Homo sapiens: one gene and its partners. The protein of the gene in region 1 interacts with the protein of each later gene in a biochemical or structural test. Each region holds a gene or a part of one and is shown in the gene's direction. Other genes may lie near its edges.

The links.
Region 2: the proteins of POU1F1 (region 1) and ETS1 form a complex in vitro, tested with the Homo sapiens proteins (one study listed by IntAct).
Region 3: the proteins of POU1F1 (region 1) and NR1I2 form a complex in vitro, tested with the Homo sapiens proteins (one study listed by BioGRID).
Region 4: the proteins of POU1F1 (region 1) and PPARA form a complex in vitro, tested with the Homo sapiens proteins (one study listed by BioGRID).

What each region holds. Positions count from the first base shown.
Region 1 is NC_000003.12:87,273,585-87,281,653, reverse strand, and holds the start of POU1F1 (pituitary-specific positive transcription factor 1), read left to right. Parts: upstream 1-5,069; 5' UTR 5,070-5,191; coding exon 5,192-5,333; intron 5,334-8,069. UniProt on the Homo sapiens protein: Transcription factor involved in the specification of the lactotrope, somatotrope, and thyrotrope phenotypes in the developing anterior pituitary. Specifically binds to the consensus sequence 5'-TAAAT-3'. Activates growth hormone and prolactin genes.
Region 2 is NC_000011.10:128,479,141-128,487,224, reverse strand, and holds part of ETS1 (protein C-ets-1), read left to right. Parts: intron 1-1,078; coding exon 1,079-1,156; intron 1,157-2,153; coding exon 2,154-2,402; intron 2,403-6,773; coding exon 6,774-7,034; intron 7,035-8,084. UniProt on the Homo sapiens protein: Transcription factor. Directly controls the expression of cytokine and chemokine genes in a wide variety of different cellular contexts. May control the differentiation, survival and proliferation of lymphoid cells.
Region 3 is NC_000003.12:119,777,432-119,785,357, forward strand, and holds the start of NR1I2 (nuclear receptor subfamily 1 group I member 2), read left to right. Parts: upstream 1-4,669; 5' UTR 4,670-4,869; intron 4,870-5,278; exon of another isoform or gene 5,279-5,326; coding exon of another isoform or gene 5,327-5,421; intron 5,422-7,926. UniProt on the Homo sapiens protein: Nuclear receptor that binds and is activated by variety of endogenous and xenobiotic compounds.
Region 4 is NC_000022.11:46,153,273-46,161,356, forward strand, and holds part of PPARA (peroxisome proliferator-activated receptor alpha), read left to right. Parts: intron 1-7,769; exon of another isoform or gene 7,770-8,050; intron 8,051-8,084. UniProt on the Homo sapiens protein: Ligand-activated transcription factor. Key regulator of lipid metabolism. Activated by the endogenous ligand 1-palmitoyl-2-oleoyl-sn-glycerol-3-phosphocholine (16:0/18:1-GPC). Activated by oleylethanolamide, a naturally occurring lipid that regulates satiety.

The sequences.
Region 1 (8,069 bases):
GTGACAAACAAAAAGTCTACATATGAAGATACACAGATGAGATACAGAACTAGACTTAGACAAATATCAATATCTATATAGATTTTCCTTATATAATAGAGGACAGTATTAGGTAGCTTGCTCAGGCTTTAAGTGGCTTATATTACTACACCAGCTTCACCACTTACTGAATGACCTTTGGTAAGAATTTATCTCAGTTTCCCAGTCAGTAAACTAGTGCCTATATCACTAGGTTAATGTGAAAATAAAATGAGATAATACATATAAAGCACATAGACTAACTATGCATAAACAATAGTTAAAAAGTTTTGCAATTAGTAATTGCTAACATTTATTGAAAGCTTATTACATGCCAAGTATTGTTGTAAGTGGGTTTAATATTACTATTATCTCCATATTACAGATAAAATAACCCAAAACACTAAAGGGTAAAATTACTTGTCCATCAATGTATAGCCACTAAGGTATAAAGCTTGGGTTTATAGCCAGACAGTTTAATTACAGAATCTATCTCCATGCTGAATATATATACTGCTTCTGAACTCACAAAAAAAAAGTAGAAAAATTAGAAAACATAAATATGAAAAATAGAGGAAAAGAGGTTTTAATTTTATATATAACCCAGAGATAATTAGATTTGAATATTAATTCTTAATAGAATTTTTCTCTGGGGTTACATATTTTTCTCTTTTCTTTTTTTCTTTTTTTTTTTTTTGAGACAGAGTCTTGCTCTGTCGCCCAGGCTGGAGTGCAAGGGCGCCACCTCGGCTCACTGCAACCTCCGCCTCCCGAGTTCAAGCGATTCTCCAGGCCTCAGCCTCCCAAGCAGCTGGAATTACAGCCCGCCACCACGCCTGGCTAATTTTTGAATTTTTAGTAGAGACGGGGTTTTGTCATGCTGGCCAGGCTGGTCTCGATCTCCTGACCTCAGGTGATCCGCCCGCCTCGGTCTCCCAAAGTGCTGGGATTACAGGCATGAGCCACCGCGCCCAGCTATTTTTTTAAAATTATACTTTAAGTTCTGGGATACATGTGCAGAACGTGCAGGTTTGTTAAATAGGTATACACCTACTATGGTGGTTTGCCGCACCCATCAACCCGTCATCTACATTAGATATTTCTTCTAATGCTATCCCTCCACTAGCCCCCACTCCCAGACAGGCCCCGGTATATGAGGTTTCCCTCCCTGTGTCCATGTGTTCTCATTGTTCAGCTCCCACTTAGGAGTGAGAGCATGCGGTCTTTGGTTTTCTGTTCCTGCGTTAGTTTGCTGAGAACGATGGGTTTCCAGCTTCATCCATATCCCTGCAAAGGACATCAACTCATTCTTTTTTACGGCTGGATAGTATTCCATGGTGTATATGTGCCACTTATTCTTAATCCAGTCTATCATTGGTGGGCATTTGGGTTGGTTCCAAGTCTTTGCTATTGTGAATAGTACTGCAATAAACATACATGTGCATGTGTCTTTATATTAGTATGACAGGATTTTTTCTGGGGTTATATATATTTTTCTCAAGATGTGGTTTTTTTTGAAACTCAGAGTATTTAAAAAAATCAATCCTTTGCTTAATTTAAGAGGAAATACGGTGAATAAATCAGGCTAAAAACACCTGGCGAAGACTTCTTTTCTGCATATTTTCTTTTATCATCTTAGATTGAAGTAGAATTTTCTTCTTATTTATCTGGTAGTTTTCAAATTGAGCTACAATTTTCATTATTATCTAAGTGATTATAAATGAGCTCTAGAAACATACAGAATATGGCAGCTTAAAATGTCAATAGAAAATTTCTTAAGGTGCCAAAATAACAAAACAAAAGTAAAAATAAATAAATAAGCCTTTGGATAAGGTCAAATTTTAAAGTCTGAAATCATTAAAAATGCATGCAAAAAATGAACCACATGTTTAGCTCTTACATAAAATACTATGTATACCAAGGTCCAGCATAAATTTAAAAGATGAGACATTAAGAAAATTTTAATCATACAATGATCAGAGCAATGAAAATTAAAATTTTCAGTGTATTTGTAAAAGACACAAATGGATAATAAAATTGAATGGCCTTTAAATAAAAGGATAAAATATAGAATCTGTTAATTAACAAAACGATAAATACAGATAGCAAATATAAACCTGAAAACAGAGCATATCAGCAATCAAAAATGCAGATTAAAATATTAAAATATTATCCTATCAGATTAATAAGGCATATATATTTACACATTATTACTAACAATGAGAATGCCAGACAATTGTGGATTTTACACCACTAATGCTAGTGTAAGATGGTATAAGAGCATCAGTCATATTTTAAGGGTGTCTTCCAAGACAATGTTCTATCCCTCCTTGTCTACAAACATCTGAATGTATCCAGGACTATCCTACCCATTCATAAGTGTGGACCACTGGGAACCATCTTTATACTTCTGGAACTTACCAAAAAGTTATAGCCAATAAGAGTATTTCTCTCGGCCCAGCGCATGGCTCACATCTGTAATCCTAGCACTTTGGGAGGCCGAGGCGGGTGGATCTTTTGAGGTCAGGAGTTCGAGACCAGCCTGGCCAACATGGTGAAATCCCATCTGTACAAAAAATACAAAAATTAGCCAGGTATGGTGGCAAGCGCCTGTAATCCCAGCTACTTGGAAGGCTGAGGCAGAAGAATCTCTTGAACATGGGAGGCAGAGTTTGCAGTGAGCCAAGATCACGCCATTGCACTCCAGCCTGGGTGACAGAGTGAGACTCCCCAAAAAAAAAAAAAAAATTATCATAAATGTCGACTGAGAAGCTACAAGATAGTCTGTTTGCCTCCTTGAAAGTTTAAGGCATGATCTAGAGATTTTTGAGGTGAACATGGATGGAGAATCAGCCTAGGCTGTTCTATAGAGAAGGAAAAAAGTTTGAGACAAAAAAAAAAAAAAAAAGCAGGTAGGAGAGTCAGAGAGGTGTGCCCTCATTTTCTATTCAGTCTGTCTCTATGGCCTGACTTCCTTCTTTTCTGTGAGTGCCAAGAAACTCCTGTGTCTCCTGATAATAAACAATTCTTTTTGCTTGACTTACTCCTGATATTTTACATCAAAATCATAATATAATTAATTATTTGAAAATGCAAGTTAGTAATGTTTTCAAGATGTTAAAAGTTTGTAAGACTTAAGCTTAGTAATTCTACTTCTAAGAATCTATCTTAAAGGGGTACATTCCAGATAATCCTATAGATATATTGTATCGTAGAAGACTGTAATGGAAACATTTATTTCCTGGCTTTACCTCATTTTAACAGAACAGGTGTTTAATTTTTAAAAATGATTATGGAAGAAATTCTACGATTGCAATTTAAAACTTTTTAGATATCATGGTAAATAACTGGGAAAATTTTATATTGTTTGCTAGGCAGGTTTTATGGTACTTCATAAAGTATCTTCAGTATACTTCATAAAGTATATTTTTCACATACTTTACCAACATATTCCAATGACTTTATATAACAATAGTAAAATTATTAAGGGACATTTTCAAATTACATTTTCTATAAATATCATTTAGCTTAATTTTTAACATACATGATACCCAATAAACACACTTTTATTTAATTTTCTTAACAGAAACTCCAAATAGACATACTGAAAATCACCTTTTTGTATATGTGAAGTCTGAAAATGATCAGAATTCTGCAAGGGTATAATAATGCTTTTGATTACTTGAAACTTTCTCTCATTAGAAAAGACTAATAAAGCTTCAAAGATATAGAATTCAGAATGAAAAAATATGTCATTTTTAGAATAAATATTTTCATTCCATATCTAATGATTTAGGCAAGCTTTTACATATTTTCCTTCAAAATATCAGCTGCTTACTGACAAAGTGTTCAAGTTTTTGAAAATGTCTTATCAATATTAACATGAAATTTGATACAAAGCAACCAATTCCAAATTATCTTAAAACATTCCGTAGTACAAAATTAGTGTCTACTCACATCAATAATATCTATTCCTGTTCGCTTACTTCTATTTGCTATATTACCTTAATATACAATACATAAATAGTATTTTATTTACTCATTACATACTCATAAATCATGATCATTGTAAAGTTTTGATGCTGTTATTTATCTTTGAAATAGTTGGCTGTAGCATATTATTTTTTTCATTCTCATATAAAGTCAATATATTTTGTGTGAGAAGTTTGCATCTAGTTAGCAACTACCATGGTTATCTCAGGCTTTGTGGCACAGAGTCTAGCTTAGTGAGAATGGCAAGGTACATAACTCACATAGATGTTGTGAGATTTGCATGACGTAACTGTATAAATACCTAGAATACTGTCAGCATCTAGTAACAGCTTACTAAATATTGGGTTCTTGAGTGAATTGAAATCGAGGTAAAGATAACAATTACCCATATCTTAGTTGTATTTAACTTTGGTGCAGTAGTGGTTGCGGTTCTTGCCATTAATGCAATCACTTTTGCACCAACCTATCATTACTACATTTTATCCAATTTTTTTCCATTTTTCACTTATAATATAGTAAAACTTATATTGGTTGTCATCGTTTTTAAAAGCTGTGCATTTTTGAGTATGAATCATTAATTGACAACATATTTTCTCATGTTTAGTATTATATGCTTCTCTCATAATCTTAAATATTGTTTCTTAAAATTATGTATAATACTATGCACTTCTTTTGTTTCATGTTTTATCGCAGATTTAATGAGAAGTTGTTTAAAAAAATCTCATATTTATACATTTGCAATTGTGTTAGTAGCAAAAAGATACCTACTATTTTTCAATTGATTGTGGCATTATTTTTTTGAGGGACGTGTTTTCAAAATTGTTGATTCCTCTCTAAAAGGTCTGAACTACTGAAGTTGTCAAATAAGGTTTCAGATTTCTCCCTTCCCCTCCATCTATACCCCAGAATCAGCTTCCTTCTCTGCCATGGATTATGTTTGGGGTAAAAAAGGAAGACGGTTCAGATTGATAAAGCAATACTCCTGGGAAAAGACTATTAACATGTATAAAGGGATTTCCTTGCAGTATAAATACTAGCGCGCACCCTCCTGGTGCCTCAGAGCCTTCCTGATGTATATATGCAGGTAGTGAGAATTGAATCGGCCCTTTGAGACAGTAATATAATAAAACTCTGATTTGGGGAGCAGCGGTTCTCCTTATTTTTCTACTCTCTTGTGGGAATGAGTTGCCAAGCTTTTACTTCGGCTGATACCTTTATACCTCTGAATTCTGACGCCTCTGCAACTCTGCCTCTGATAATGCATCACAGTGCTGCCGAGTGTCTACCAGTCTCCAACCATGCCACCAATGTGATGTCTACAGGTACTGACTCCTATGACAGTTTACATATGACCGGGCCTAAATATTTCAGAATGAATGCTTTGAATCTTGATAGTTAATAATCTCTTTGCATCTTTCATTTTACCCCTCCAATTTAATTTGTCTTAAGTGAAGTAAGCATTAAGCATATCTAAAAAGCCAACATGCCAAATAAATTTTAAAGAAATATTAGTAAGTGTAGTAATTTAAAATCACTGTTGGCTTTGTTGTAAGGAAGAAAATCTGTTTTCTACATAAGAAAAGAATGAACTTGGACATTTTAAATCTAAAAACCTTTTTAATGGAAATATTTATAGAATAAGGAGCAAATGAAATGAATATTATAAAATAACAATATTTAAAAGGTGCTACTTCTTTATCTTAAAGGTTTATTCGGTTGTTAAATTACATTTACTATCTAAAAACAGCTATAAACCTTATATTAAACACAACAGAACAATCTGAATATCAACAACAATGGATTTCATAGAATAAAATAGAGTTTTAATTAACATATTTTAGCATAAGATACAGAAATTATAGCAAGAAATAACATGACATTTAAAGCCCATTAACTAAGGTAAATTTTCTCAAAATTGCATTCTGAAGAGACTTACTTCACTTCTAAGTTTTAACATTTATCTCACATAACTTTTTAGAACAAAAATTAAACCTAAGAATTCACAGGCTCAACACAATCAGCCAAATACATATGTTTTGCCAGTGTGTTCATTCTTTATGCAGTAACAAAGTGTTTTAGAGTTGATTTACAAATGGAGAAAGACTTGAATTGGGTAAATTTCTTCCATTGAATAGCAATATAATATTCACTTTCCACTTGTTTTAAATGCAATTTTTCTCATATTTAGGAATGAAATTATATACATTTAGAAATCAAAGTTTGAGTTGATACATTATTCTGATTTGAAGGATTTAAGCTCTATCTTTTGTTATTATTAAGCATTTTCTAAATACATGCGTAAGTTTGGCACCAATCTTCTGGTGGATTTTAAAGAATCTAGAGGTCAGATATTTAGACTTTGGTAAAATCATTTAATGTAGAGATTTTTCAATATTACCTTTTAAATTAAATTTCAGGAATCCGCCAAAGATTTCTGTAATTTAATTTAAAGGGTAATACAGGAAGTATCCTCCAACATAATTTTTGGAAGACACAATAGTTTTTATCAAAAATATATGCTATAAATAAATCTAAGCAATTACCACATAGCTAATCACATATTTTAAATAGTAGGTCATCCTATAGATTGAGAATAATGAGAATAATACACTATTTCTGTGTTTGAAGATAATTTGGCCAGCATGAAAATACAATTCAGAATCGAGGTAATAATCTAGTAAAATCTAATTTTATACTCAAAATGCCATTTATTTACTTTAAAATAAGTAACAATTTATTTAGTAAATTAGCCTATCCTGTATTTAACTTCCTAAAATCTGAAAAGCAAAAATTATTTAAGCCTTAAAATTAAAAAAGAATTATAATTAATAAAAGTGACCTACAAATGTTTTAAATGATAATAGCATTGATTTATAATTTTTTAATGAAATTTGAATCATATACATCTAATTGTCTAAGGAACTATTATAGAAACACTGACTTTAATGGGAACACTTGAGTATTAAATATGTTTAATGATAATTTGCTTAATTTTGGAATGCACAGTAATGCATTATATGTAATCATTATATTGCAAAATGACTTTAGTTCTTTTGAGCTATTAATTATAAAATAAAAATGTATACAGATTTTTAAAAATTAAAGATTTTTCTCTATTTTAAAATAATTTATTTTACTTTATGAAGAAAGGCATGTCTTTAATCACTAGTTTGTATATTGGTATTCTCAAAGGATTCTAACCATACTTTATAATATCTCATTTATTCAAGAAAATTAATTTATGAAAATTAACCAATATATTCAGAATATGAAGGAAAAAATTGAGAAAATAAAATATATAAGGAAATATTGGTTTTATTGTCAATATTTTGTGCTCCCTATCAACTTGATGATTTGTGTTTAAAACTTGATAAAAGTCTAATAATTCCAGTTTACTTCCAAAATACACATTGATTTCCTGAAGCATATAACCATTTATGAACGGTTATGTTTATGTACGGCTTTATGGCTTTATGGATATTAAGTCACTCAATGAATGAACTCATTTTTTGACCAGCTTTATCATTAGAATGGTTGTATCAATTGTGTATATGCAGACAACTAACAACCTCATGGTTTCAACATCAAAATAAATAGATCATATATTGTTACAGGTTTTTAATAGCACTCTGAATGCAGTGAGATTTTTATGATTGTATCTAATAAAAGGCTACTTGCTCTGCCATTTCCACTTTGATGAAACAAATTTGTTAGACAAATAAGCAAAAATACGCTGTTCAAGAGTGAATTTCTGTATTCATTCATACAGACTGCTTTATAATACCATGCAACACAAGAATTTTAAAGGACTATTCTTCTAGTCGGCGAGTTGCAATGTCTGCATTGAACAGAACCAACAAGCATTCTGCAACTCCCAAAGGGCCAAGGTCTAAATTGGTCAGTCACCCCTTCACGGGGCACTCGTAGCCATAGCACAGAGCACAGGATAATTAATGAAGTCCGTTTTGATGATTTATTATCTCGTTACATGAGACAAACTTTGATCCCCCCTAGTTTTAACCTACTCGTCAGAGAACTTACCCAAAATGAGAAAAACA
Region 2 (8,084 bases), on another chromosome or scaffold:
CAGGTTCAGTTACTTGAAGAGATGAGCATGATGTTTGTGCTGAGGCTACAGCTTTTGTTCTGTAATTAAAGCAACACAGCAGCAAAAGAACATAGCTGTTTGGGGTGGGGTGGAAGGTGAAAGGTACGGGGATGTTTCAATCTGATAAACTGCTAAAGCAAAGTTTAATCATTTTATCTCAACTGGGAACTGTTTTTCTGTGCAGGCATAAACTTGTTTTCCCATCAGACTTTGCTCCTAACAAGCTATCAAATACCTGAGGAAAAACCCAAACCCATACTCTATGTCAGATTCTTATGGTGAAATATAATCAGACTACTCCATACAAGAATCGGAGCCATGGCATTTGTTCCAGGGTAATTAGAGGATCCCAGGCTTACTGCAGGGTCGTTCAGAGCTTTCTGTCCGCAGGTGCACTTCGTCTCCCTTCCTCTCCTTTTCCTAGGGGAGTTGGCATCTGGGCAGGAGCTTGACTGGGTTGCTCTTCTCTCCCTTGACACAAGCGCAGTCGCATTTCACCAAATGGAGTCACCTTACCAGTGTCCTGCTTCTTGTCTGGGCCTGAACTTGAAACCTGAGGGCAATGGGAAAAATACAAAACAAAAACCAGACATCTGTTAGAGGAAATGGAGAACGTAAAATCTATGGCCTAAAGACTGCAATATATTTTTGAGAAATTTTGAAATTGATTAGTTTGGGGGTTGGGGATTGATCCTGCTAACCTGGGATGTACTCAAGCCTTTGGCTATAGTGTGGTCGACATACACGCAGCACGAATGCATTGAGAATGAATGCTGAATGCCTTCTGAGCCCTTAGAGATTACTCATGGATTCTCTTTCCAAGATACTAAATCCCATTTTGCAGCTACTGAAATAATAACCTTAGTCATATTTTTTTGATCTCATCTTTAGACAAGGCCACAGTCAGGACAGACTCAGATACCAACCCAGTTAATGAGTATGCAGATTTCTTAGAAAAGGGGTTGAGATCATTGTGGTCTTTGCATCCAAGATCCTTTTAGGCCAAGCATGACTTGAATATTGACCTCTTTGTTCCTTCCCTATCTGTTCATTACAGAGGATGTGAAACCATATCAAGTTAATGGAGTCAACCCAGCCTATCCAGAATCCCGCTATACCTCGGATTACTTCATTAGTAAGTTCATTTCTACCCCTCTTCTCTCATGATAATAGCAAACTAGGAAAAGACCCCTATCTCAGTGAATCTCAGGCTCCTTCATGGTAATTCTATCAAAAATAATATCTTCTTAGATGTAGACTCTTCTTTGTTACTTTATTTTATTATTTTCCACAAAGCACAAAGTTTCAACCTATATATATGTTTCATTAACCTACCAAGTTCCTACACACTAGGATCCTTCTCTGATGTCTTCACCTGAAAGTCATGCAGAGAGACTGCAACTAGACCCCTAAACTTTTGTTCCTATTTGATACTGTGCACTACGATGGCCAAAAGAGGGTTGGGTTAGGGATTTGATCTTGGTCTTTGTTCTTTCCTTTTTACTAGTGGAGATAACAGCATTTCCTCCAAAATCCTTCTTTAAGAGTGTGCTATGCAGCTTCAAATTCTATTATAGGAAATACAGTCTTCTCCTTTTTCGTGTAAGATACCCAACCATACTGAAGAGATGGCCTGAGGGAAACAATGAATGTAGGCCTGTTGCACTAATGTAAGCTCTGAGATATAGGACCATCTTATCTGATGGCTGTGCTTTTACAGGGAATATGAAACAGGTTTTATTTTTTTCGTTTTATCTTTTTACGTTATTACAATTTTTATTCCAGTGACACAATGATATTAACTACTCTGTGTCAAGAGCTTATTGTGTGGGGAATGTTGGTGGGCATTTGACCTCTATCCTCATTTCATCTTCATCACAGTGCTCCGGGAAAAATCGCAATCACCCCCATTTTAGAGATGAGGATATGAAGTCAGGAAATCAATTACCTTGTCAAGGGCTAAAGCTGTTTAGTAGTGGACAAGGTTAAAAATGCAAGCTTTTCTGATTTAAAGTATTTTCCCTTATTCTCTAAGGAGCTTGTCCCACATCATAGGGCCCTGTAGATGGTGAAAACTGCTTATTTTAGGTACAAATCTCTCCTCTCTTTACTTGCAAACCCTTTGTTTCCAGGCTATGGTATTGAGCATGCCCAGTGTGTTCCACCATCGGAGTTCTCAGAGCCCAGCTTCATCACAGAGTCCTATCAGACGCTCCATCCCATCAGCTCGGAAGAGCTCCTCTCCCTCAAGTATGAGAATGACTACCCCTCGGTCATTCTCCGAGACCCTCTCCAGACAGACACCTTGCAGAATGACTACTTTGCTATCAAACAAGAAGTCGTCACCCCAGACAACATGTGCATGGGGAGGACCAGTCGTGGTAGGTCATATTTCTTCTCTAAAAGCTCTTGGGTTTACAAGAATTACCTGACTTTGTGAGTTTTTTTCAGGTTCCATTTTTTTTTTCTTATTTATTAGACCTGTAGATTCCTCAGTTTCAGCCTTCCCATCTTAGAGTGTCCAGATACTAAGAACTTTCCATCGTGGTGTTTTAGCCAAGTCCATTATTATGACAAAGGCCATGGGGTCCACAGTGAAATCAAAATCAGGCAATCTAAGAAATTAAATATCTTACTTGGGCAAAATGTTTTACTCAATAACTCTAGTTGAATTTGGTCATTTTGAAAGGTATGCTCTATTTTCCTTGAGGAGGACATAATCAAGTAAAAATGGTTCAAGTGGCCACCCTGGAAAACCCTTAAGCTTAGCATGTGTCCTGGTGCTCCTCCCAGAGGACTCCTGGGTCTGACTGTAGATCCTAGCTGGGTACCTGGAATGACCTCTGCTGGCCAGCCTGGGATCTTTAGCCTCCTGTGACTTTTTCGGTTTGGGAAGATACAAGATGGTTAACCAACGGTTTATTTGGAACCAGTCATCAGCAGTGTGGTGAAGTGTGTATTTAGCTAGAGGACCAGGGACGGAGGTGGCCAGGGGTTTCCAAAAGAAGGTAGTTTTGTTAACGTGACTATTATAATAGTGATAAAATATTCACTGTCAGGGAAGAAAGTGTTTAAAAATAGAGCTGGGTGACATAAAGCAAAAAAGGTAAAATGCACCCAATTTTTAGGAACAGGACATAAACACTCAGAGGTACAGCCTACCTAGTAAAGTGTCCAGATTGTTTTGTTTCTGAGAAAAATGCAATCTATTGTAAGAAAGGGTTTGTCTATTTAGCAAGAGCTAGATGATTTCTAAAAAGGTGAAAAACCTGACTTTTCTGGTGGGTAAATGGGAAAGAATTATAAATGGGAAGAGGAACAGGAGAAAGCTGATCAAGCGGGGCTTGGGTCAGATGTCAGGCTGGGGCTGGCCTATTAGTGATTTCTGCTCAATGACTGACCATATGCGGTGCCTATTGTGAGGCTCTTGGAGGAGAGCCCAATGGTACCTTTACTTTGAAGAATCATGGGTCATGCCCATTGTCGTCTTCTTCGAGTATTCAGACTCACACTTCCTCCTAGCAGGCCTAGGGATCACCAACAAGCCCTGCAGAGGGAAAGTCCCTGCAAAATCAGAACCCCTAATCTTCCTTCTTAAGGCCCCAGGGTGTTAGTGTTTCAGACCGAAGGGGATGGGTGGGACCAGTCGGCCTTCCCCTTTCTGGCTCTTTTTTATTTTTGGGTGCATGTCTATTTAAATACATACACACAAGTGTGTGTACATGTGTTTCTTTTTTATCAGGCGAGTCAAAGCATTAAAACGACTTTCTTCCTTGTGGGACTTTCTGTACATCTACACAGTGAGGCCAAGCCTGTGGGTTTGGGCTCAGCCATGTTGTAACTTTGGGTCGATCTCCTGTCACATTGTTTTGAAATTGCATCTGGCTTTGCATTTGTGTAATTGTCTCTTTCCCTCTCCTTTTCTTCATTCTTGGTTTTGGTCCCTACCACCCCTCCAACCCCAAACTAATGACTGTGGACCAAAAGTGACCCTTACAAGGAGACATGAGGTATTTCTTTCTGGCTCCACTCTTCTTCCCTCCCTCCAAGTTCAGGCCACAGAAACTTGAGGGGAAGACCATTTTGTGCAGGGCTGTTTTCTGCATGTTAGAAGTGCTGCAAACAGGGCCTATGCAAAGGGCCAATTGATTCTGAGATGCTGTGATTGGTCTAGACCGAAAGCATTACTGTTAGCTGATTGTTATTTATACTAACCATAGTACAGTATTCACGGGCTGCATTACAGCGTACAGAGTGCTTCTATGCCCCACTTATTTGGGCCCTAAGGACTGTCTTTGTACGAGTCTACTCAGTGGGTGGCTGGGTGCTGCCGCATCTTCTGTTTTGAGTGCTCTGAGGTCTGTTTGGTGGACTCAGATAGCTTTGGAAGGAGCTCGCCGAGGCCCTTCTCAGAAAGGCTGGCTAGTGGACAGTTTAGAGAACACAGGTTTCCCTACATGAGCGCAGCAGCATAACTGAGTATCTAATCCAGTTGGATTCTACCCATTTTTGGAGAAAATACCCGTAAATGAAGGTTCCCAGCACCAGGGTTGTGAAATCGAGCTAAAATGAAAGCTGCCTACCGCTGTAAACCACAACTCTCAACAGGGTTGCATTTGCCTCATGTTTGGGGGGTTGCCAGAGACTGGTTCTGGCTTGGTTTAGTCCCCTTGCTTAGTGGGACTCCTTGGAAACTCTACTATCTTGCTTGTGAAAATTCTGATGTCCTTTTTCTCCAAGTATAAAATTGGCTGATAGAAATGGAATCATTTCAGAGAGACTTTAGCATAAATACTATCGACTTGGTGCGGTGTTGATGAAAATATAAATTCTCCTTCTTAGGCTTTTGGTATGTTTGTCTCAAAGAGAAAATAAGTGACCATGAAGATCAGTAGCTGGTATGAACAAATACCTTTTTATGAGACGCCACAGAATTTCCTGTTCTGCTAAAACAAGGCTTTGACATTCTGGTTGTAGGCTGTTTTCTTAAATCATTTAGTGTGAATTTCTTGAAAGAAAATTAAATGATCTCTAAAAAGGTGAAAAAGATGACTTTTCTGGTGGGTAAATGGGAAAGAATTTTTAAGAATTATAAAGAAATATATATTCATTTTTAGTAAGAATGAAGAGGTGCCCTTTTGCTAGTGGACTGGGTGGGCAGGGCTGATAACTCCATGAAGCTCTTCAGTTTGCTTTCCAGAGATTACCCTCCTCTGAATGGATGAGTGGAGGAAGGAATGAGATGAAACGGATGACACCACCTTTCTGTTTAAAGCAGTTCCAGAGGGGGTCAGGATGTAGAGAAAACCCACAGCAGTGGATTTTACAAAAAGTACACACTCAACCGAATACATTTTATCCGGATCTTTAAACAATGTTGGGAGCAACATATTTTCCTATATATTTAATTTAGGTTTGGGCATCTGTTCATGTTTGATGTTTATTGTTTTAACCAATCTCCGCTGTCATGGAGGGAAAAATACACTGGAGGCACACTAATATGAAGTTGTATAAGTCAGCCTTATTCTGGGATTTGAAATTTATAGATCAACCACCCCTGAACAATTAAGAGTTGACTTACGGATATTTCTCCGTAAACATTTGTCACATCCCTTTGCCTTTTGGCCTGTGCTGAATTGAGGTGACCATCTAGTCTCCTATGATTTAACTTAGGTTACTTGAAAAGTATCTGAAAGTTGCATATAAAAACCATTCCTGCGAGCCTTTTTCGCTCTTAGATTCATTTGTTTTCCTCCAAAACTATTTTTTTTTTTTTTTTGCTAGCCTCCTTTTTAGTGGCATTTTTGCCAATGGAAATTTCTCCAGGAGCTATTGTGCAATCATAGCAGCTGTTTATAACCTGGTTTGGGAAATTAATGAACTTGCATGATCTTGTGGTCAGTTAAGAATGCCTTAAGCAACTCACACAGTAAAGGATTTCTGACACTGCTGTGGACCTTAACTCTTTAATAAACCTTTTAAATATTGCCTACACTTTTCCAATGAAGTTTAAATTTCAAGTACATAATTTTACTTGGAGAGGATAAAGAATATGGTTTTCTGTTTAGAAGAGTGATAGTGTGTGTGATTTTAAAAAATCTCTTGGGAAAAGCATCTTACACCATCTTACTCTATTTGAAAAGGCATAGGGTCAGTACATGTATTTCATATTAAAATAGTATTTGGGAAAAATGCTAAAAAATAGCACTTAGTTCCAAGGTCAAAACAGGCTAATCTGCTCTTAGTCTAATGGGATTCTTTTTTCTTATGACCAAAATGTTTTCCAAACTGGGCCTTTTGAAGTCATCTCATTGGCTTGAGCTGGAGTGGGGAATTCAGCCTGACATTGCTCTGATTTCTTCATTTATTCATTGGGCCTACGACATCAGCCAGAAATCATATCATAACATGTGTGATCCTCAGCTTCTAGATTTCTGGCTTTAGAACTCTTGAGGACCCAAACGCTACTCCGACAGATGTGAGCAACGTTTGACTCTGAATCTCTGTACTTGGAGTTCTCAAACCAGGCAGCAGAGTGGCCGTGGACCCTCGGATGGTGGCCTAGTGCAGCCCCTTTCCTCAGAGTAAACCCATGACCCCTGAAGCTTCTGTTCCCACTCGCCTCTCCCTTCTTCCGTCCTTCCTGCAGATCTGATTAGCAATCTGTCCTCCATAAGAGGGTTTTTACAGTTTTTTTTTTTTCCCACTCCCTCCTCCCCCTGTCCTCTTCCTACCTCCTCCTTTACCTCCAGGTAAACTCGGGGGCCAGGACTCTTTTGAAAGCATAGAGAGCTACGATAGTTGTGATCGCCTCACCCAGTCCTGGAGCAGCCAGTCATCTTTCAACAGCCTGCAGCGTGTTCCCTCCTATGACAGCTTCGACTCAGAGGACTATCCGGCTGCCCTGCCCAACCACAAGCCCAAGGGCACCTTCAAGGACTATGTGCGGGACCGTGCTGACCTCAATAAGGACAAGCCTGTCATTCCTGCTGCTGCCCTAGCTGGCTACACAGGTAGGCGCCCTCCCGCTGCTTAGGCCAACTCCATCTGCACGTTTCTGTGGGTGGGGTCCTGGAAGGCACTCTGCACCTCTGACCAGAGACGACGAGAGACTCCCTTTTGCAGGGCACGGGGGAGAAGTCTCTCTAAGAATTCTTTAGTCTCTCTCCAGCCACTCTGCTTGTGAATAGCCATTGATTTTTGGAAGCAAATAGTATCATTCTCTTCAAAGGGATCATTTCCAAGAATGGTAGGAAACTTACATTTTGGGTGTTTTTCCATGTCTGGGGGAAGGGAACTATAATGATCTGGTGTTCCTGGAAACTCTATCTAGTGGCCTGGCATCAGGGGATTTTTCCTGGTCTGCTCTTGGGAGGTCTTTCTAAATACAAAATCAGCAGCAGCATCTCTCAAAGGCACAACTGAATGGCCTCCGCACTGGACTCTTCTGCAGCACGGTTCTCCTTAGGCCAGCTGTTCAAATGTGGGAACAGTATCCTCAGTGGCACTACGCCCTGTCCAGATCCATCCTGGCCTATAGAGAATGCCCCTTCTCTTACTCGGCTTTATTATCAGTTTTCTTCCAGGAGCGAAAGCTATAGTTATGATAGTGATGGGTGAAGAAAGGCCATAGAGAAAGGAAGATGTAGGTTGAGAGCTTGAACTTTGATTGAGACTCTGGTAGTAGAGCAAAACAATGCTTTCTTCAAATGGGTTGTAGCATATCATGCTACTTAACCAGAAAAACATGTGGAGAGTATATCTGAGAAATAGCCAAGGAGCATTAATGTGTTAATCATCAGATCTCTCTGTAAGATTGTAGTGTTTTCTAAAAATTAGAAAGTGTGTTGTGAGTAGAGCTTATTTTAAAGTAGCTTTGATTACTCAGATGTGGTCTAGGCCTTTATTCTCTTATAATTCTCTCCACCCTGGATATGTTTTCATGTAGGGACCCTTTGTGTGGATGATGACAAACAGCAAGATCTGTGTTTCTATTGAGGTGTCTCTCTGATCCTTAGAGTATGCTGAATCCTTATTTTTGCATTCAGGGAAGCCTTAGGTCT
Region 3 (7,926 bases), about 33 Mb from region 1:
ATAGGAATGATGTTCTGACCCATGTTACAACATGCATGAACATTATGCTCACTGAAATAAGCCAGACACATAAGGACAAATATTGTATGATTCCAATTACATAAAATACCTAGAATATGCAAATTCATGGAGATAGAAAGTAGATTAGAGGTTACCAGGGACTCAAGGAAGATAACAATGGGGAGTTGCTTAATGGATGGAGTTTCTATTTGGGATGATGAAGGGGTTCTGGATATGAATAGTGGTGATGGTTGCAAAACATTATAATTAATGCTACTGAATTGTACACTTAAAATGATTTAAATGGTTAATTTTATATTATATGTATTTTTTACCAGAATAAAAAATGTTGGCTGGGTGTGGTGGTTCATGCCTGTAATCCCAGCACTTTGAGAGGCCAAGGTGGGAAGATCGCTTGAATTCAGGAGTTCAAGACCAGCCTGGGCAACCTAGGGAAACCCGTCTCTACCAGAAAAAAATAGCTGGGCATGGTGACATGTGCCTGTAGGCCCAGCTACTCAGAAGGCTGAGGCAGGAGAATCGCTTCAGCCTGGAAGGTTGAGGCTGCAGTGAGCCATGATTGCCCCCACTGCACTCCAGCCTGGGCAACAGTACAAGATCCTATCTCAAAAAAAAAAAAAAAAAGTAAAGACTGATAAATTGTACCTTATAAAAATAAAATAAATACATAAAATGTGACTAGCAATTTTAAGACACTTAAATATTTGAATTAATTTATTGAATACCTGCTCTGGGAATTAGTGTTGTGTTTCCATTTACAGAGACAAAACAGGTCTAATTGATTGACTAAACAATAGATGTAAATGTGGTCAGTGTTTGGATGTCTATTCATAGAATAGGAACAATTTTTCTGAGAAATGATTTGACTCTCAGCTGTTTCCTGTATGACCTCTCAATTTACATTTTATTCAAGAGTTTCTAATATAATATTGTGGAGCAAAGAAACTTGACAGCAACAGCTGTTGAGAGAAGGTAACTGTCATATTAATATTTCTGGGAAGAGGTATTGCGGTGTTACCAGATTCCAGATTTGCACCTTTTCCCCTCAATCCCTTTATCCCTCTCAAACATTATAGTGATTTATGAAAATATATGTATAATTCCAAATAAGTTTTAGATAATTCCATATATACCAAATACCCAATTATCTCTTTGCTGTCAAAGGGTAATTTATCCTCATCATGACACTTGCCATCATTACAAGTTTAAAGCCTAAAAATGAAAAGAGGTTTCACACATTTAAGAGCTAACTCATTTAATAATAAATCAAAAGTAAGTATGAGTTTCATTTAGTAGTAGCATGAGCTAGCTGCAGGGAAGGTCCTCTCAAGGTGGTCCTTTTTCTTCTCTTCAATAAAGGCAGAACTCTATTAAAGCATATTAGTAAAAACCATATTTAAAAGAATTACTACACTGAACTGAGCAGCCACCAAATGCAATTGGTACCAGGTGATATAAGGGCTTCTCCTCTCAGGGGGCTTATAAGCAACTAAGGCAGGAAGTCACAGATACCATATTCTGCAGTGTAATTTACAAATGAGGTGAAAACAAAGTGTTCCAAAATTCTAAGAGAGACATTGGAATTCTGACCACAAGTGTAATTTATGGAGCCTCAGAGTAATTATAGGATCTGGAACAGCTGGTGCTCAAATTTAGTGGTCCTCCAGTTGCTGGAATCTGCGATTTCTGGGAAGTTAAACTTTGTGTCACTGCTTCTACTTGTGATAAAATGAAACCGCTTTCAAAGAGAAGATTCCTATTCCTAGCCTTTTTGGGTAACTTCTACTACCTCCACTTAAGGATGAAAAGGGAGAAGTTTCCTCCAAGACTGCCTCATGGGGATCAGAGTGTCACCTCCATGCTCCTGCCCTAAGTGCCCCTGAGCACACCCCAGAGGGAGGCTAAGAGATTTTTGAGAAAGACCATGTGACTGGCTGATAAACACCTATTTTCCTCAGATTCCACCTGAATTTATATCATCAGTGCATCACTCTTTTATTTTGTTCTCTCTGTTCCTCTTTTTAAATATTAATATTCTCTGGAGAGGGGTAAAACATTAAATGAATTCACACTGAGGAAACTGGCCAGGTACAATGGCTTATGCCTGTAATTTCAGCAATTTGGGAGGCCAAGGCAGACAGATTGCTTGAGCCCCAGAGTTTGAGACCAGCTTGGGCAACATAATGAGACCTCGTCTCTACAAAAGAAAAACAAAAAAAAAAATTAGCCAAGCATGGTGGCACACACCTGTAGTCTCAGGTATTTGGGATGCTGAGGTGGGAGGATTGCTTTAGCCCAGGAGGTTGAGGCTGCAGTGAGCCATGACCATGCCACTGCACTCCAGCCTGGGTGACACAGCAAAACACTGTCTCAAAAAAAAAAAAGAAACTCTTCAGGCTGATCAGATCTGCTTTTCTCTGATGAGTTTCTTAGGAGCTCTACATTTCTGGTTGCTGCAATAGGCAAAGTATAGAATGGAGGTCAAGGCCTCAAATTTCTCTGACTTCCCAGCTGGGCTTGAGAGTGACTCTGGCCCTCAACTGAGGGCATTAGTAAGCTGTCCTTAAGAACGAGAGTGTATTTTCTGGCTGTATTCTTAACTCATTTCACTATAGAGCCATGTCTGATATTAACAGTGCAGTGCTAGACTAGAGAGGCCTGGCACTCCTACAGCCTTCTCCTGTCTTCTAGCTGGGACTTCACACCACAGACCCAAAGGAAAAGAGACCCAAAGATCCCTGCAGAAACCTGAGAATATTTCCTTTACCTCAGTGGTTTCATAATCTGTTCTTAGTTTCCTGTTTCTGCTGTAAATAATTCACTATATTTTTAAGAGAGAGAAGGTCAGGCCCTTGTGAGCCAGAAGGGATTTGAGAGATGATGAAAGCTACGTATGTTACCCATAACCTAAGGACTTCTGGCAAGGTGGCCTACCTGAGCTGGAGTCATGCCTTTTTTCCCTGGACTTGGAGATACCTGTCAGTGCAGAAAGGCCTACTTTTGATCTTGGAAATAAGTTTCCTGGGGTGAGTTCTTAACCCTTTCCAGCTTTCCCACCCTCTTTGGCTTTAGCCATGGCCTTCTGATCTGTGTTTCTCAGGGGACCTGCAGGCCCCAGATATAGCCCCATGCTGTCCTCCTACCCCAGAGCACACTGTTCAGGCTACTTCCACTGGTACTGAAATCCAGTATTTCACTTACTCTTTTTCTTTCCAATATCCTCATGACATTCAATATTTCACTTACTCTAGGTCCTCCCTGCCTAAGGCCCAAGTCAACTTTCTGTCCAGTGGGATTTGTAATCCAATACCTCCTAGCCCTAGCAGAATCCCATGTGGATAATCAGAAATGTGACTGGAAAAAGGACAGAGCTCTATGGCTGTGGGTCCCAGTCCCCACTGCTGGCAGTAAGTCCCCAGCAGTGAGCTGTGTAAGCACCTTACATTCTGCGCTTGGTTGAAAACAGCAAGGCAAGCATCCACTTGAGAAATGTCAACCCCTAGGAAATCCCAGCCTCAAGTCTTTCTCATCCCTTGGGAAGTGCAAATTGGATAGAGAAGAAACCAATTAAAAACAAAACAAACAAATCATACTTAGATATTCTGGCTTTTCTCACCAGGGCTGGATTAAAGCATGTACTTCAAAATAATAACAACTTAAGTCAATAAATAAATGTAAGGAAGTCCAAATGTTCACCTGAAGACAACTGTGGTCATTTTTTGGCAATCCCAGGTTCTCTTTTCTACCTGTTTGCTCAATCGTGGTCTCCCTCTCCCTCTCTTGTTGGGGCCCATGCCCCTGCTTTACTGTTGCCAGAGGCTTGTACTTGTTTGCCTTTTAGGTAGGAGCAGTTACTTCCACTCCCCTCACCTGCCATAAAGCATCTTTATAAACAAAGCAAGTAGAAGAAACACATCCTGGTATCCACCACATTCGGCTTTTGTTGATTCTGTTCACTTGGGAGCACCTGCTGCTAGGGAATAAGAAGGTTGAGGCTGAAGAGTGAGGACTCTTCAGCTCCCCTCTGGCAGGACCCGGGAGAGGAAAGAGCCCTCAGCTGGTCCATCCTCCCCACTCCTGGTCAGCCTTCTGTTCTGAGATCAAAGTGGTGGGGTCACATTCTCGAGAACTGTGCTCAGCCCCCTCATCTCACACCCTTTCCCTCTCCCTGTGTGCCTGCCCCCCTCTTACATAACCATGCTGGTGATTGGCACCGTCATAAATCAATACTTTGCTCACTTTCACATCAAGTAACACTATCCAGGGAGGTGGTTTCAACAAAGGAGGAAGTATAAGGAGATCTAGGTTCAAATTAATGTTGCCCCTAGTGGTAAAGGACAGAGACCCTCAGACTGATGAAATGCACTCAGAATTACTTAGACAAAGCGGATATTTGCCACTCTCTTCCCCTTTTCCTGTGTTTTTGTAGTGAAGAGACCTGAAAGAAAAAAGTAGGGAGAACATAATGAGAACAAATACGGTAATCTCTTCATTTGCTAGTTCAAGTGCTGGACTTGGGACTTAGGAGGGGCAATGGAGCCGCTTAGTGCCTACATCTGACTTGGACTGAAATATAGGTGAGAGACAAGATTGTCTCATATCCGGGGAAATCATAACCTATGACTAGGACGGGAAGAGGAAGCACTGCCTTTACTTCAGTGGGAATCTCGGCCTCAGCCTGCAAGCCAAGTGTTCACAGTGAGAAAAGCAAGAGAATAAGCTAATACTCCTGTCCTGAACAAGGCAGCGGCTCCTTGGTAAAGCTACTCCTTGATCGATCCTTTGCACCGGATTGTTCAAAGTGGACCCCAGGGGAGAAGTCGGAGCAAAGAACTTACCACCAAGCAGGTATGGTTTTTCTTTCTTTCTCTTTTGCTGGGGGCTGACCGCCCTTCAGCTCCAGCCAAAAGATGTGTGTGAACACAAATATACCTTCTGTTTGAGGTCAGCATCATAGTGGGTCGTGAATCATGTTGGCCTTGCTGCTGTCTCCTCATTTCTAGGGTGGAAAAAAAAAAGCATGAAAACAATCACTTAATGTTGAGCCCCATTACTGATGCTCTCTGGTCCTGCACTAGCCTCCTAGAAAAATCACCACAGGAGAAGCCTTAACTACTGCATGAGTTACCACAAGTCACACATACAACCAGCTCCCTGTTACAGGGCTGGAGTCCCTGGACCCAGGAAATACCACCTCCAAGGACTGTGGGAGCTGGGGACTATGGGAACTGGGATCAACTCAGTCCTGATTCCTTTTGGCCTGCTGGGTTAGTGCTGGCAGCCCCCTGAGGCCAAGGACAGCAGCATGACAGTCACCAGGACTCACCACTTCAAGGAGGGGTCCCTCAGAGCACCTGCCATACCCCTGCACAGTGCTGCGGCTGAGTTGGCTTCAAACCAGTGAGTTTTCTACCTCTACTATTGAAAGGGCACCTTGTCCCACAGAACCGAGTCTTGCCTGCATGTGGTCAGTGCCACCAGGTCCTTCTTCTCTCCACTTTACAGCCCAGCTCGGCTGAAGCTATGGCCAGAGGCACTGCTTTAAGGCCACTCCATATCTAGGACAGGTCAACAGACACCTCTGAGGCCACTGAGTCTTGACTCAATGAATCAGCTATAGCAGGCACTATTCCTCTCCCACATGGCCTCTAATGATATGGTCAGAGTTGAAAGGATGCTAAGGGAGGCCTCAGAGGCTTATTTAATCAGTTGGTTAATGGGAAAAAGTATTTTGTGGTACACAAATACGCTTTAAAAATATTTTAGTTATGTCATAAAAGTCTAAACCTGGGGTTGACAAACTATGGCTCACAGGCTAACTCTGGCCCACCAGCTGTTTTTATAAATGAAGCTTTATTGGAACACAGCCATGCCCATTCGTTATGTATTGTATATGGCTGTTTTTGCCCTACAACATCCTTTCAACTCTGGCCATATCATTAGAGGCCATGTGGGAGAGGAATAGTGCCTGCTATAGCTGATTCATTGAGTCAGCAAAATTGACCAATTGCGAAAGAGACAGTATGGCCCACAAAGCCTAAAATATTAACTATCTGGCCTTTAACAGAAAAAGTTTGCCAACTCCTGATCTAAAAGCTGTCAACTTGTTCCAAAATTATTATGGAATAAACCCAAGACAACCACAAAACTGACTAGACTAGGTTTTTTAGGTAATAACTTTTTAAATTATAAAGTAATACATGATTTCATGCTCCTTGAAAATGAGAAAGCAGTATAGATAAACCTAAATTCACCTTTGGCCATTCTGTCAATCCTAATCTCCAGTTTCCCCAAAAGTACTTAGTGTGATATATTTACTGCCAGACCATTGTGTCTGTGTGTGTGTTCATCTATGCATAGATGGACTATTAAACCTATCTGTTGCCATGTTGTTCTAATTCTGTTTTTCCACTCAATAGCAAGACTTGGAGACTTTCCATATCTGTATAGAGCTCTACTTCATTTATTTTAACTGCTACGTCATATTTCACAGTGTACACTTCTTTTATTTAGCCGTTTTCTTTTCGATAGATATTTAAGCTTTTCCAATTTTTCAGTCTTACCAATGAACCTCACTGTGTTTGTCTGCTTCTAGACATGTGCACGTATTGCACTAGAGGAACTACTAAGACGTTGAATTGCCACATCACAGGATATATGTGGTTCAATTTTTGGCTGCCAAACAGCCCTCCACAGTACCCGAACCGACTGTACTCCCACCAGCAGAGAAGGATAGTTACTGTTCCTCCACACTCCAAACAATGCTTGCTGTTTATTCAGTATTTTATTATTTTTTCCATTGAATTAGTGCAAATGACAACCCATTATTTCAATATTTTAATTTCCCTGATTATTAATGAAGTTGAGCATTCTTTTTATAGGACCCCTCTTGGCCATTGTATTTCTCTTCTTAAATTACCTATTCATATCCTTAGCTTATTTTATGTCGGATTTTTTTTCTTCTTTGTAGGAGTTTTTTATTTATTCTCAATGCAAATTATTTGATATGTGTGTAATATTCTCTCTAAGCTTTGTTTAAATCATACTTTTTAGCCAACAGAAATTTTTACTATTATTGTTGTTGTTATTTTGATGTAGTTGAATCTGTTAGTTTCCCTCTTTCTGGATTTTACTCTTTGAGGCTGATTTTTAAAAGATTTCTCAACTTCCAAAATTATGAAGCTACTTTGGTGCACCTTCCTGTAATACTTTTATTTAAAAAGTTAGTCTTTATTCACCTGGCACTTATTGCAATACATTATTTCAATACTATTTATTGAAAAGTCCATCTTTTTCCTATTTGTTTGAAATATCACCTCTATCATGTACTAAATTCCCACTTACACATGTCCATTTCTGTGTCCTTTTGTATTTATTTCCTATTCCTGAGCCAATTTCCACTATAATGTTTACCTTTTCTACTTGATTTTTTCCCCCAATAAATAGAAAATCTATTTTGTGTTTTGATATTTTGCCTAGTTACCTTATGGAATTCTCTTAATAGTTATAAAAGCTTATCAGTTGATTCCTTTGGAATTTCTAGTTAGACAAACATATCATCTATATATAGTAAGAGTTTTGCTCCTTCCTTTCCAATCTTTACAAACCTTAATTTTTTGTGTCTTATTGGTTTTTCTTTGCCATTCAGCATAATGCTGAGTAGTAGCCATGAAAGTAGATAGTCTCAGAAGTGATGCATACAGTTGTGTGGGTTCTATACTGCACAATTCTAGGAGATACTCTTTACAAACACTTAGATGTCCTAGGAATTCTTGTCATGTTCCTGATTTCCATTTTTATTTTGTACTATGAACTCATTTGGAAACTTCTCTTTGGGACTTGTTGAGATTGAAATTGTTTTCCTCTAGAGGATTTATTTTTGCTTTTGCCAGGAACCTGAGGACA
Region 4 (8,084 bases), on another chromosome or scaffold:
AATACTCCTGCCTCAGCCTCCCGAGTAGCTGGGATTACAGGCACTCACCACCACACCCGGCTAATTTTTGTATTTTTAGTAGAGGTGGGTTTCACCATGTTGGCTGGGCTGGTCTCAAACTCCTGACCTCAGGTGAACCGCCTGCCTTGGCCTCCCAAAGGGCTGAGGTTACAGGTGCGAGCCACCGCGCCGGGCCCTTTTCCGACATCTTAAACGTAAAGTAGGAGACGTGTCATAATCATCGAATACTGCAGTGGTTTTCATTAGCTCCTGTTTGTCAAACTTATGAACAGAGTTTTAAAAATTGTGTATCAGCCGGGTGCGGTGGCTCACACCTGTAATCTTTGGGAGGCTGAGGTGGGCAGATGACAAGATCAGGAGTTTGAGACCAGCCTGGCCAATATGGTGAAACCCTGTCTCTACTAAAAATACAAAAATTAGCTGGGCATGGTGGCGGGTGCCTATGGTCCCAGCTACTCAGGAGGCTGAAGCAGGAGAATCTCTTGAACCCGGGAGGTGGAGGTTGCAGTGAGCTGAGATGGCACCACAGCACCCCAGCCTGGGTGACAGAGCAAGACTCCGTTTCCAAAAAAAAAAAATTGTATATGAGAGAGACAGAACTAGACAGAGAAGAAGGAGAAAATGTGTCTTCTTTATACACTATTTTGTAACTTGCTTTATCGAGTAGGTTATGAAAAATCTTCCTATGTGAAAAACATTTCTGCATCATTTGAAATGTCTATATAATATCCCATTGTGTTTAGATACAATAATATTTAGCCAATCTCTTTATGTGTATATATTTAATACAGTCATTCTATAAATATTGACTGAGTAGCTGCTGTGGGCTACTGTCCGCAGTGCTGAACAAGACAAGCATGAATCCATGAAACTGATTTTCATACCAGAATATAAAAAAGAAACTTAAAGATAATCCTCATCATGGTAAAAGATGAAGAACCTATTTTTGCCGGGACATCTTACTCTTTAGTAATTGGTGGCCAGTGTTCTTTTTCTTGCATGCTGTTTTGGAGAGTCTGTTTTTTAAATAAATATTTAAGTAGCCTGGGCGCAGTGGCTCACGCCTATGGTTTCAGCACTTTGTGAGGCCGAAGGGGATGGATTGCTTGAGCCCAGGGCTTCAAGACCAGCCTGGGCAACCTGGCGAAACCCTGCATCTACTAAAAATACAAAAATTAGCCAGGTATAGTGGCGTGTGCCTGTGGCCCCATCTACTTGGGAGGCTGAGGTGGGAGGATCCCTTGAGCCTGAGAAGTGGAGGTTGCAGTGACTGAGATGGCACCACTACACTCCAGCCTGGGTGACAGAGTGAGACCTGGTCTCAAAAAATAAATAAATATTTATGTAATCATCTTTAAGCAGTGTTTTTAATTTTATTTATTTATTTATTTATTTTTGAGACAGGGTCTCACTGTGTCACCTAGGCTAGAGCACAGCTGCATGATCACGGCCTATTGCAGCCTCGACCTCCCTGGGCTCAGGTGATCCTCCCACCTCAGCCTCCCAAGCAGCTAGGACCACAGGCACACGCCACCAGGCCTGACTCATTTTTGTATTTTTTGCAGAGACGGGGTCTTGCTATGTTGTTCAGACCTGTCTCAAACTCCTGGGCTCAAGCCATCCTCCTGCCTCGGCCTCCCATAGTGCTGGGACTAAGCCATGAACCACTGCACCCGGCATAAGTGGTCTTTCTTTAAAAAAAAAAAAAAAAAAAAAAAAAAAAAAAAAAAAAAACCACATTAATTAAAATATGTATTTGCTTATTATAAATATATTTGAAACATGCCAATTTTTCTTCTCTTTTTTTGCTCTATTGGTTTCTGTGTGTGGATGGATATATTTTTAATGGCAAATAGGATGAGTGTCTTTACTTCCAAGTAGTCAGTGTTTTTCTTTAATGTTTGTACTAATTTTGTCACATTGCAGTTAGAGGTTGTGGCCTGTCTAATTTCTGCTTTTTTGGAACTTGAGAGTCTCTGTTTTTATTTGTTTTTGGTAGCCTGGCATAGAGTCCATTTTTCTTTTCTTTTCTTTTTTTGAGACGGAGTTTAGCTCTTGTTGCCCAGACTGGCGTGCAGTGGCGCAATCTCAGCTCACTGCAACCTCCGCCTCCTGGGTTCAAGCGATTCTCCTGCCTCAGTCTCCCCAGTAGCTGGGATTACAGGTGCCCACCACCACACCTGGCTATTTTTTGTATTTTTAGTAGAGACGGGGTTTTGCCATGTTGGCCAGGCTGGTCTCGAACTCCTGATCTCAGGTGATCCACCCGCCTCGGCCTCCCAAAGTGCTGGGATTACAGGTGTGAGCCACTGCGCCCAGCTGTAGATACTTTTTAAAAAGGTATAGTTTCTGATTATGGGGTAGAAATGTGCTATGTCTGTCATTTCAGCCTTATGAATTGCCCAGAATAAGCTAGATCACCTTTAAGGCCATGTGGTTAGGGAAACTTGGGCACAGAATTTACATTTTCAACTTGGTGATAAGATGGGTTTAAGGTAAGAATCAAATAGGAGAAAGCCTTAGCTGTTCCAGCGGCCCATGTTTAAAAGAATGTGCTTCTTTTTCCAAGTATTTCTGCCGCTTGCATGCACTGAGCTTCTTTGGAAAGGAGCACCATGCAGGCATATTTTCCAGACAGGACCGGATTTGCTCGTTACTCAGAGGTGTGTGCATTCTTTGCTTTTAGGATATTTAATTAGCATCTTTTAATAGTGATATTACGGTGTCTTAAAAGTTTATGCATTTGAAAAGAAAAGAACTTACTCCTTGCCAGGTCTCAACCTATCATGGTTATCTTTGCAGCTGAGCTGCGTTGGTTTTGAGGCTCACATATGGTAAAAGTGGTTGGAAATCTGGAAATATTGCTGTGTATCTGCAAAGCAGCTTGATATAGTGGAAAAGGTATTAGGTCATTAATCATGAGATTTGGATTCTAGCCCCTTAGCTGCTGCCTGCCAGGCCTGGAGACCTTTGTTCTCTTCTTTAAACTGCTGCTTTCTCATCAGAAAATGAAGTTCCTCTCCATACCACCTCTCTGAAGGGCTGTGAAGCTCGAAGTGGCAGCTTAAAAAACTGCCCATCTCAGGAGGTGTCTTAAGAAGGAGGACATACCGCTGGCTCCTGCCTTTCTCACTTAGCCAGGTCTGATACCTGTGTTGTTTTCACTGTGGCCATTTTAGGATTTTTCAAAGGCTTTCAGAAAGCAACATGCTACCGTACCCCTTATACACCAAAACTGGTTTTCATTTTGGAATATAAAAGTGAGATTTCTCCACCAGTACAATAAAGTTGTTACAAGTGGTTCCTATGTGTTTGTTTTTGTTTTTGAGACAGAGTCTCACTCTGTCACCCAGGCTGCAGTGCAGTGGCACAATCTTGGCTCACTGCAACCTCCGCCTCCCGGGTTCAAGCAATTCTCCCACCTCAGCCTCCTAAGTAGCTGGGACTACAGGCACCCGCCACCACGCCCAGCTAATTTTTGTATTTTTAGTAGAGATGGAGTTTCACCATGTTGGCCAGGCTGGTTTTGAACTTCTGACCTCAGGTGATCCACCTGCTTCAGCCTCCCAAAGTCTTAGGATTACAGGCGTGAGCCACCACACCCGGCCTCCTGTGTGTTTTGAAGGTGATTGTGACCTCAGGTTTTGGCAGGGCTATACCTTGTGTTTGCTCTTACTCCAACTCCATGGCATACCTGGACCAGGCCTCTTCATCTTGAAGAGGGATCTGCTGAAATGCAGGCCCAGTGAATCTCCCCATGCCTGGACACAGTTCCGTCAAGCCAGGACCCGGTGCTGCCTGCACCCCTGTTTCTGTTAGTCTGACTGTCCTCGCTGAGTCTAACTCCTTGAGGGCAGAGAGGATGTCTTATTTATTTCTGCCCCGCTAGCCGTGTAAACTGAGTAGGTACTTGTAAATGTTCATTGAATAAGTACCTGATTAATAGAATTTAATTCAAGAAGAATGTATTGATGGGCCTGTGTGGTCACCACAGTACTGAGATGTAGGTGGGAGCTGGCTGAAGGGGGAGGCACCTAAACAGGAGTGCAGACAGCGGCACCTACGGATGATGGCCCGCTCCATCCCACCGCAGCGAAATTGTCCCAGACCTCTGCAGCTTCCCCCACACCTAGACTGAGAGAGAGCTCTTCTTCCTTCTGTAGGGAGCAGGTGTTTCCTCCAGATGTCCAATATGTACCTCCCATTACAGCGGTGTTAGGAAGGTGAGGGCTGCCGCTGAAAGGGTCCCCTTCATAATCATCACTAGATTTGGGGTATATTATGGATTAAATAGAATTTTTATAAGATGACCTGAGGATCTATTTAAATAAAATCCTCTTTCTTTCTGCAAGATCATGGATTTAAATTCAACACAACTGACTTCATAGGGAAGGGGTATGGTGAAAGGGAAGTGAGGTGGGCAGCACTGATATTTAACAAGGTGAGGGTCCTTCTCCTGCTCTGACTGTCACATTAAAATATTCCCAGGAGAAATTGGAGAAAACTCAGATGAAATATCGTCTGTGTTCCAGGAGGCAGGACTCATCGGAATGCTTTTATTTTGCTCCATTTTAAGAGATTTGCAGATAAAGAGGAGTGAAGATTTCTATTCAGATTTACTTGCTTTATATTTTAACTTATAGACCACAAGCCAACTTTCGAAAGAGCATCATTTTGAATAGTAAGAGTTAGGAAGGCAAATACAGAAGGACTAATGGCTTCCAAGATTATGAGCTTCATAGGAATGGTTTGAGATGAGGCTATAGTAAAGCAGAATATTGAAGTTCCCCCACCCCCTTTCATTTTTCATTTTTCATTTTTAAGAGTGAGCGAGGCCAGGCGTGGAGGCTCACACCTGTAATCCCAGCACTTTGGGAGGCCGAGGTGGGCAGATCACAAGGTCAGGAGTTTGAGACCAGCCTGGCCATCATGGTGAAACCCTGTCTCTACTAAATGTACAAAAATTAGCCAGGCTTGGTATCAGGTGCCTGTAATCCCAGCTACTCAGGAGGCTGAGGCAGGAAAATTGCTTGAACCCAGGAGTCGGAGGTTGCAGTGAGCTGAGATCGCACCACTGCACATCTCAGAAAAAAAAAGAGTGAGGCCCCAAGTTTTTTTGCATTTGTTTGTAACTGAATACGTCTGAAGTTATGTGATAACCACGCCAAGGTGACAAATTGCCAAGTTTCAGTAAAAGAGACCCAGTTATTTAGAGGTTGACACGTGGATATGTCCCTTTCTAAGAAGTTCGTGGTCAGCTTTACATGAGTATTTAAATGCGTGTTTATAATTCAGCAATATGGCTTGTAAAATACAGATTGCCAATCAAGTGACATGCAAATCTTGATGATCTGAAACAAGTTTTCTTCTGTTATCTATGGAAGAAATGGTAATAGGGATATTTAAGTGGGATGAATTTTTTGAAGCATTTTCAGGCAGTTTTCCACATGGAACAAAATAACATTGAGTGGGCTGCTAACATGAGGAACATATTGCCCTCTGCCTAGGATTATGAGTAAATTTGATAAATTCTAGACTGCAGTCTCATTTTAGCTCATTTTATGAGGCAGCTTGACAACTGGGATAGTGTCTCTTTTTTTTGTCGGGGGTGTTGAGGCTGGAGTCTCGCTCTGCTGCCCAGGCTGGAGTGCACTGGCGTGATCTCGGCTCACTGCAACCTCTGCCTCCGGGGTTCCAGTGGTTCTCCTACCTCAGCCTCCTGAGAAGCTGGGATTGTAGGCATGTGCCACCACGCCCGGCTAATTTTTGTATTTTTTAGTGGAGACGGGCTTTCACCATGTTGGCCAGGCTGGGTCTCAAACTCCTGACCTGAAGTGATCTGCCCGCCTCAGCCACCCTAAGTACTGGGATTACAGGCATGAGCCACCACACCTGGCTTCTGTTCTATCTGTGCATTGGGGATGAAATTAACACAAATGATGTTTAAAGAAAAAAATGCTCAGAGAAGTTAGAAATGTGCTTTAAATTGGAATCATCTCTTAGTATGTAAAAGTTTTTTGTAATAGAAACAAGCAGGGCAGTATTTGACCTGTTGACAGTGTCCTTGGACTTTACAATTTGTGAAGCAGCGTATTTTGCTTGAGTTGTACGATTGTCGTTTTTTTCCCCCCACTTTGACAACTGTTACAGAACCTGTCACCAGATACAGGCAAGGGAGGTTGGGCTTCCCATCTCTGCACGGCTTCCCTGTGATTCACAAGCAAGCAATCAGAAGTGCACAAAAGTTTAGAACGCGATTTTCATTCTCTTCTTTCCTTAGAAAAACTCGCTTTGTTAGCCTTTTCCAGAAAGGAAGGCACTCAATTGTTGTAATACTCAAATCATAAAAAGAAGCCTAGTCTAGTCTATTCAGCAAGGTGTTCTGAAAGAGGGAATTTTTTAAGTTCAATTATGCGAAGATCTTGAAGGTGGGACTCAAAGGAGAGGGCTATCCTGGGAAGAAGGCTTTGGAAAATGAGAGGCATGAAGGGGAGAGGGTATTTAAATGTGTTTGAAGCCAAGGATCCTTGAGAGAAAAAGCTGGCACTAACAGCGTTCAAAGAACTTGCGTGACAAGTGATGACTAATGACACTGAGGGTGGGTTGTGGGTGCCTAGTGAATTCCTCCGAAGCCAAGAGAGAGGTTTCCAGACCCAGGGAAGAAGGTGTGTACACCCAGAAGTAGTGTAGGGACAGAGATTCCGATCACAAGCTGTGACTGGAAGACGCCGACCACCACTGCAGCAGCCTGAAAACCACAGTCTTGAACCGCCAGCGAAGGGCTGGGAAGTGCGGATCCAGGGCTGGTGCACTGAACCCAGAGGAGCAGGCTCCCATTCCCAGCTAAGGGTGGCAGCTGGCGGGGATCTTTCCAGCAGAAAGCTGTAAGTGGAAGCTTTCAATTCAGAGCAGTAGCAATGCCTTCAAAGTCCCAGGCTTCACGTGGGAACAGAGAATGTGAAGAGTATTTAGCAGGATGCCAATATAAGAAATCTATATTGGTGTTCGTTTGTTTGTTTTTGAGATGGAGTCTCGCTCTGTCACCCAGGCCGGAGTGCAGTGGTGCGATCTCAGCTCACTGCAATCTCTGCCTCCTGGGTTCAAGCGATTCTCCTGCCTCAGCCTCCTACATAGCTGGTACTACAGGCACGCGCCACCATGCCTGGCTAAATTGTTGTATTTTTAGTAGAGATGGGGTTTCACCACGTTGGCCAGGCTGGTCTCAAACTCCCGGCCTCATGATCCGCCCTCTGCAGCCTCCCAAAGTGCTGGGATTACAGGCGTGAGCCACCGCACCTGGCCCAATATTGTTTGTTTATTTATTTCTTGACAGGATCTCACTCTGTCACCAGGCTGGAGTGCAGTGGTGTGATCTCAGCTCACTGCAACCTCCACCTCTCTGGCTCAAGCAATCCTCCCTCCTCAGCCTCCTGAGCAGCTGGGACTACAGGTGCACACCACCACACCCAACTAGATTTTGTGTTTTTTGTAGAGATGGGGTTTAGCCATGTTCAGCTAGTCTCAAACTCCTGGGCTCAAGTGATCTGTCCGCCTTGGCCTCCCAAAGTGTTGGGATTACAGGTGTGATTCATGATGTCCAGCCCAGTATTTTTCTTTCACTCTGGAAACCAAAAATTATTGGCTTTTTTTCCTGTTGCATTCCCTTTACTTAGATGAATCTAGCAAGGTTGGCTGTTAGTGTCTAGGTCAGAAGTCTAAGTGAAAGTGAATATTTAACCACACTCAAGCACAGCTGATGATCTTTAATACTAATAGAGGTATAAGACTTAAAAGAAACAAGAACCCAGAGGGAAAATATGGCCATGGACTCAGAGAAAACCACGGCAGCTTCCATGGACTCATAAAAAGAGCTCAAAACCTAGGAAGTGGATGGAGACTCTTTTTGGAATGAATGAATTCAAATGTGGGCTTTCTTAGTAGATTAAATCATTTTCTAGAAGGAATTTCAGAAGGATGTGTGCCCAATTATGGTATCAGGTCTGTTGTAGACTCTTCAAGGAGGAAGCCTCTGAAAGACAAGAAGGAACAATTAAAAATTAGAA